2 separate regions of the Homo sapiens genome follow, and region 2 is linked to region 1. The links come from fine-mapping of genetic effects on gene expression. Tissue or cell type: whole blood. Region 1 holds a variant in brackets; the other region holds the start of a gene. All regions are shown on one strand. Distances are between the middles of the regions.

Evidence for each region. PIP is the estimated chance that this variant, and not a neighbour inherited with it, causes the effect.
Region 2: it holds the start of SENP7, and the variant in region 1 is fine-mapped to the expression of SENP7 in whole blood (TOPMed, PIP 0.93).

The regions. Positions count from the first base shown.
Region 1 is chr3:101,471,127-101,473,891 of GRCh38, reverse strand. All of the region lies in intron 3 of SENP7 (SUMO specific peptidase 7), which reads left to right. Among named protein-coding and RNA genes, the nearest start is that of SENP7, 41 kb to the left of the region's middle. The variant A/TA (reference allele first, on the strand shown) is at 1,569.
Region 2 is chr3:101,511,552-101,514,316 of GRCh38, reverse strand. It overlaps SENP7 (SUMO specific peptidase 7), which reads left to right and starts at 1,105. Exons shown (of 24, transcript NM_020654.5): 1 at 1,105-1,226. The coding sequence starts at 1,187.

The sequences.
Region 1 (2,765 bases):
ATGGATTAAAGACTTAAATGTAAAACCTCAAACTGAAAACTCTGGAAGACAGCCTAGGCAGTACCATTCAGGAGATAGGCACGTGCAAAGATTTCATGATAAAGATACCAAAAGCAATTGGGACAAAAGCAAAAATTGACAAATGGGATCTAACTAAACTAAAGAGCTTCTGCACACCAAAAGAAACTGTCAACAGAGTAAACAGACAGTGTACAGAATGGGAGAAAATTTTTGCAAACTATGCATCTGACAGAAGTCGAATATACTGCATCTATAATTAACTTAAACAAATTTACAAGCAAAAAACAACCCCATTATAAAGTGGGCCAAGGGGGGCATGAACAAGTGCTTTTCCAAAGAAGACGTACATGCAGCCAACAATCATATGAAAGAAAGCTCAACATCACTAATCATTAGAGAAATGCAAATCAAAACCACAGTGAGATACCATCTCACACTAGTCAAAATTGCTACTATTAAAAACTCCAAAAGTAACAGATGGTGGTGAGGTTGTGGAGAAAAAGGAATGGTTATAAAGTGTTGGTGGGAGTGTAAATTAGTTCACCCATTGTGGAAGACAATGTGGCCATTCCTCAAAGATGTAAAGACAGAAGTACCATTCACTCCAGCAGTCCCATTACTGGGTATTTACCCAAAGGAATATACATTGTTCTATTATAAAGACACATGCACACATATGTTTATTGCAGCAGTATTTATAATAGCAAAGACATGGAATCAATCTAAATGCCCAGTAATGTTTTACTGGATAAAGAAAATGTGGCACATATACACCATAAAATGAGATCATGTCTGTTGCAGGGACTTGAATGGAGCTGGAGGCCATTATCCTTAGCAAACTAATGGAGGACAGAAAACCAAACACTGCATGTTCTCACTTATAAGTGGGAGCTAAGTTATGAGAATACATGGACACAGAAGGGGACAACACATGCTAGAGCCTTTCAGAAGGTGGAGGGTGTGAGGAGGGGAGAGCATCAGGTAAAATAGCTAATGAGTACTAGGCCTAATATCTGGGTCATAAATATTCTGTATAACAACCCCCCATGACATAAGTTTACCTATGTAACAAACCTACACAGGTACCTCTGAAATTAAAAGTTTTAAAAAAAGGACTTACTCATTTTGTTAATGATTTTCTGACTGCTTTTATATCTCTATTTCTCTATTCTTTTATTGTTTACCTTTATGATTTGGTGGTTTTTAAAAAATTATTTTTTATTATACTTTAAGCTCTAGGGTACATGTGCATAATGTGCAGGTTTGATACATAGGTATACATGTGCCATGTTGGTTTGCTGCACCCATCAACTCATCATTTACATTAGGTATTTCTCCTAATGCTATCCCTCCCCCAGCTCCCCACCCCGCGACAGGTCCCAGTGTGTGATGTTCCCCGCCCTGTGTCCAAGTGATCTCATTGTTCAGTTCCCACCTACGAGTGAGAACATGCGGTGTTTGGTTTTCTGTCCTTGTGATAGTTTGCTGAGAATGATGGTTTCCAGCTTCATCCATGTCCCTGCAAAGAACATGAACTCATTTTTTTT[A/TA]AGGCTGCATAGTATTCCATGGTGTATATGTGCCACATTTTCTTAATCCAGTCTATCATTGATGGACATTTGGGTTGGTTCCAAGTCTTTGCTATTGTGGATAGTGCTGCAATAAACATATGTGTGCGTGTGTCTTTATAGTAGCATGATTTATAATCCTTTGGGTGTATACCCAGTAATGGGATTGCTCAGTCAAATGGTAATTCCAGGTCTAGATCCTTGAGGATTCGCCACACTGTCTTCTACAATGGTTGAACTAATTTACATTCCCACCAACAGTGTAAAAGCATTCCTATTTCTCCACATTCTCTCCAGCATCTGTTGTTTGCTGACTTTTTAATGATTGCCATTGTAACTGGCGTGAGATGGTATCTCATTGTGGTTTTGATTTGCATTTCTCTGATGACCAGTGATGATGAGTGTTTTTTCATGTGTCTGTTGGCTGCATAGATGTCTTCTTTTGAGAAGTGTCTGTTCATATCCTTTGCCCACTTTTTGATGAGGGGGTTGTTTGTTTTTTTCTTGTAAATTTGAGTTCTTTGTAGATTCTGGATATTAGCCCTGTGTCAGATGGGTAGATTGTAAAAATTTTCTCCCATTCTGTAGGTTGCCTGTTCACGCTGATGGTAGTTTCTTTTGCCATGCAGAGGCTCTTTAGTTTAATTAGATCGCATTTGTCTATTTTGGCTTTTGTTGCCATTGCTTTTGGTGTTTTAGTGATGAAGTTCTTGCCTATGCCTATATCCTGAATGGTATTCCCTAGGTTTTCTTCTAGGGTTTTTATGGTTTTAGGTCTAACATTGAAGTCTTTAATCCGTCTTGAATTAATTTTTGTATAAGGTGTCAGGAAGGGATCCAGTTTCAGTTTTCTACATATGGCTAGCCAGTTTTCCCAGCACCATTTATTAAATAGGGAATCCTTTCCCCATTTCTTGTTTTTGTCATGTTTGTCAAAGATCAGATGATTGTAAATGTGTGGTGTTATTTCTGAGGCCTCTGTTCTGTTCCATTGGTCTATATCTCTGTTTTGGTACCAGTACCATGCTGTTTTGGTTACTGTAGCCTTGTAGTATAGTTTGAAGTCAGGTAGTGTGATGCCTCCAGCTTTGTTCTTTTTGCTTAGGATTGTCTTGGCAATGTGGGCTCTTTTTTGGTTCCGTATGAACTTTAAAGTAGTTTTTTCCAATTCTGTGAAGA
Region 2 (2,765 bases), 40 kb before region 1:
CATTCCTGCCATGTAGAACACTTCCCCAGGCCCAACACCCCACAACACCTGGGGCCTTACCTCTACCTGGGGACTGACCACATTATAATTAAGAAGGCTTAACTCACGATGAAGGGGACTGCTCTAGTGGACGAGTTGGGCCGATCCCTTTATTGACTCCGTTAGGATGGGAGATGGGGGTTGGAGGGATAGGCGTTAGGGGTATAAAGGGGCCAGCTTGGGAATCAAACCCTACTTCCAGAGTCCCTTCGGGCTTTGAACATGCCAGAAACATTTTCCCTGCTTAGAGCACTGTGCTGAATTTTGTTAAACTTGTGATTAAATCGTCATGAAAGCTTACACGTGCATTTAAAAATTATTCAGATATGCACCATTAGGGATAATCAGGCTAATAGTACCAGACCTTGAGTTCATTGAGGACTGGATTAGTCCCTTAAGTATCGTGGTAAATGTTAATTGAACAAATTCCAAGTTTATAGCCACCCACTTTCTGTCATATCAGCATTTCAGTTATTGAAAAATTAAGTTCTAGCTTTTCTTTTAAGGAACTTTAAAAATCACAAGTTCGAATTTTAAAAAGGAATCCTAAGACATTTTTCCTCGTCTGCTGACATATTTCCACAGCAAATGCTAAACTAATAGCTAGGCTATTATTAGGTGATTTTGCCATCTTAAAATCTTTTGGTTTCTGAGTTCGAGGAAAGGCGTTGGGGGCAAATATGTAAGAGAGGCTGTGAGGGATGTAATACTGCAAACGCTAACGTTTTGTTTTCATAGTTGTTTGGCCACCTCGCGAGATCCAGTGAACCGGAGGAGTTCCTGTTTTTCCCTTTTAATTTTTGTCAATCTAATCTTCAAAGTCAACAAAGCTAAAATCGAGCACCCAGGTGGTTCACCTCCCCAGAGGGGCTCAGATCATGAAATAAACGCCACCAAAAAAACGCTGGAAGAGGCAGCCCACAGTGAAAAGTCCCAGGAAGTGATTTCCGGTCGAAGGTGGGAGGGGCGGCTGATTTCCGGTCGAAGGGCAGGCGACGGCTCTTGCGCAAGCGCGCTTCGCACTTTGCGGGCTTTTTTTTTTTTTTTTTTTTTTTTTTTTTTTTCCTTTCCCCTCCCCCTCCCTCTCCAAGCCGGAGGGGTCCTGAGGTGACAGCGCCTGCAACTGAAATTTCAGCAGCGGGAGAAGATGGACAAGAGAAAGCTCGGGCGACGGCCATCTTCATCCGGTGAGAAAGGGTCAGAGAAGGGCTGAACATATTGTCTCCTACCCGGGGGAAACGGGAGGCGCAGGCGGCAGCTGGGGTTGCGGCCCGAAGCCGCGGGGGCGAGGGCGGGGGCGGGGAGAGGAAGGGGCGCGCACAATGGAAGGCTCCCGGGTCGCCCCCGCCCCTGGAGTCGAAGACCCGGTCCGAGCTGTCATCGAAGCCTCGGGCGCTCTTCACCTCAAAACCCCTTTTATTTTTTCCCTCCTCCCGCGAACACCCTCCTTGCGTCTCATCGGCCCATGGATCTTCCCGGTTGGCTTGTCACTCTCTGCCACGCCTTCCTCGTAATTCCACCAATGTTCCAATTTCATTTCGGCTTCTCAGCGCCTGACCCCACTTTCCTCTCTTCCTTTGATTCTCGACTTTGCGTCCCTTCCCCTCTCCCTCCTCTTTCCCTCAGCAGGTAGCTGCTGCTGGGGAGGAAAGGTGGGGCTTGCGACCGGAGACTCCTTTTCTTTGATACAATGCCTCTCCGGGTCTCGTTCTGCTGAACAGGCCCGCCTAATAGCCTTTTTCTTTTCCAGCCTACCCTGCGTCTTCCAAAAGTGATTGGAAAGTCAAACAAAGGATTTGAAGCCGTGCTTTCGTTGTGTTTTTATTTTCAGCATATTTTTTGTTTTGGACGTTACTTTGTTTTAAATGACTATCTTCAGTTTTGTGTACAACGTCTTGGAAACAAGAAAGTGGAGTTATAAAAACGTGAGGTAGAGCTCCTCCCAGTTGAGAAGTTTTTATCAAACATTTCATCCATTAGGGGGTCCTCAAGTCCTTGTGTTAAGTCCTATGGATGGTAGGAGGAGAGGACGAGGACTCATATGCTTACAGTCCAGTACACAAACGAACGCCCAATGAATCAATTATTTCATTTCATTTTTCTGTTTCTGATGGTACCGTTGGTTTCTGCAGAGACAGTTAACAATTACAGATTTATTGGCCGGGCGCGGTGGCTCACGCCTGTAATGCCAACACCTTGGGAGGCCGAGGCGGTCGGATCACAAAGTCAGGAGATCGAGACCATCCTGGCTAACATTGTGAAACCCCGTCTCTACTAAAAAATGCAAAAAATTAGCCGGGCGTGGTGGCGGGCGCCTGTAGTCCCAGCTACTCAGGAGGCTGAGGCAGGAGAATGGCGTGAACCCGGGAGGCGGAGCTTGCAGTGAGCCGAGATCGCACCACTGCACTCCAGCCTGGGCAACAGAGCGAGACTCTGTATCAAACAACAACAACAACAAAAAAAAAACAAAAAAAACCAATTCCAAATTTATTTAGGAGTGCCCTGTGGCAGTGCATCTCAAACTGCTTTCAGCCTTAATTGCAAAGGAGAGTGATTATGGATCTCTGGGGACACTGCTTGAAGCAGTTGAAAACCTGAAATCCCTTTTCATATGCAACCAATGTTATCGATGTTCTTGGTGTATATTCTGGAGATAATAGTTTTTTCCTTTGAAAGCACATGTATAAATGATATATATGTATATTTATACATACATGTAGGTATAT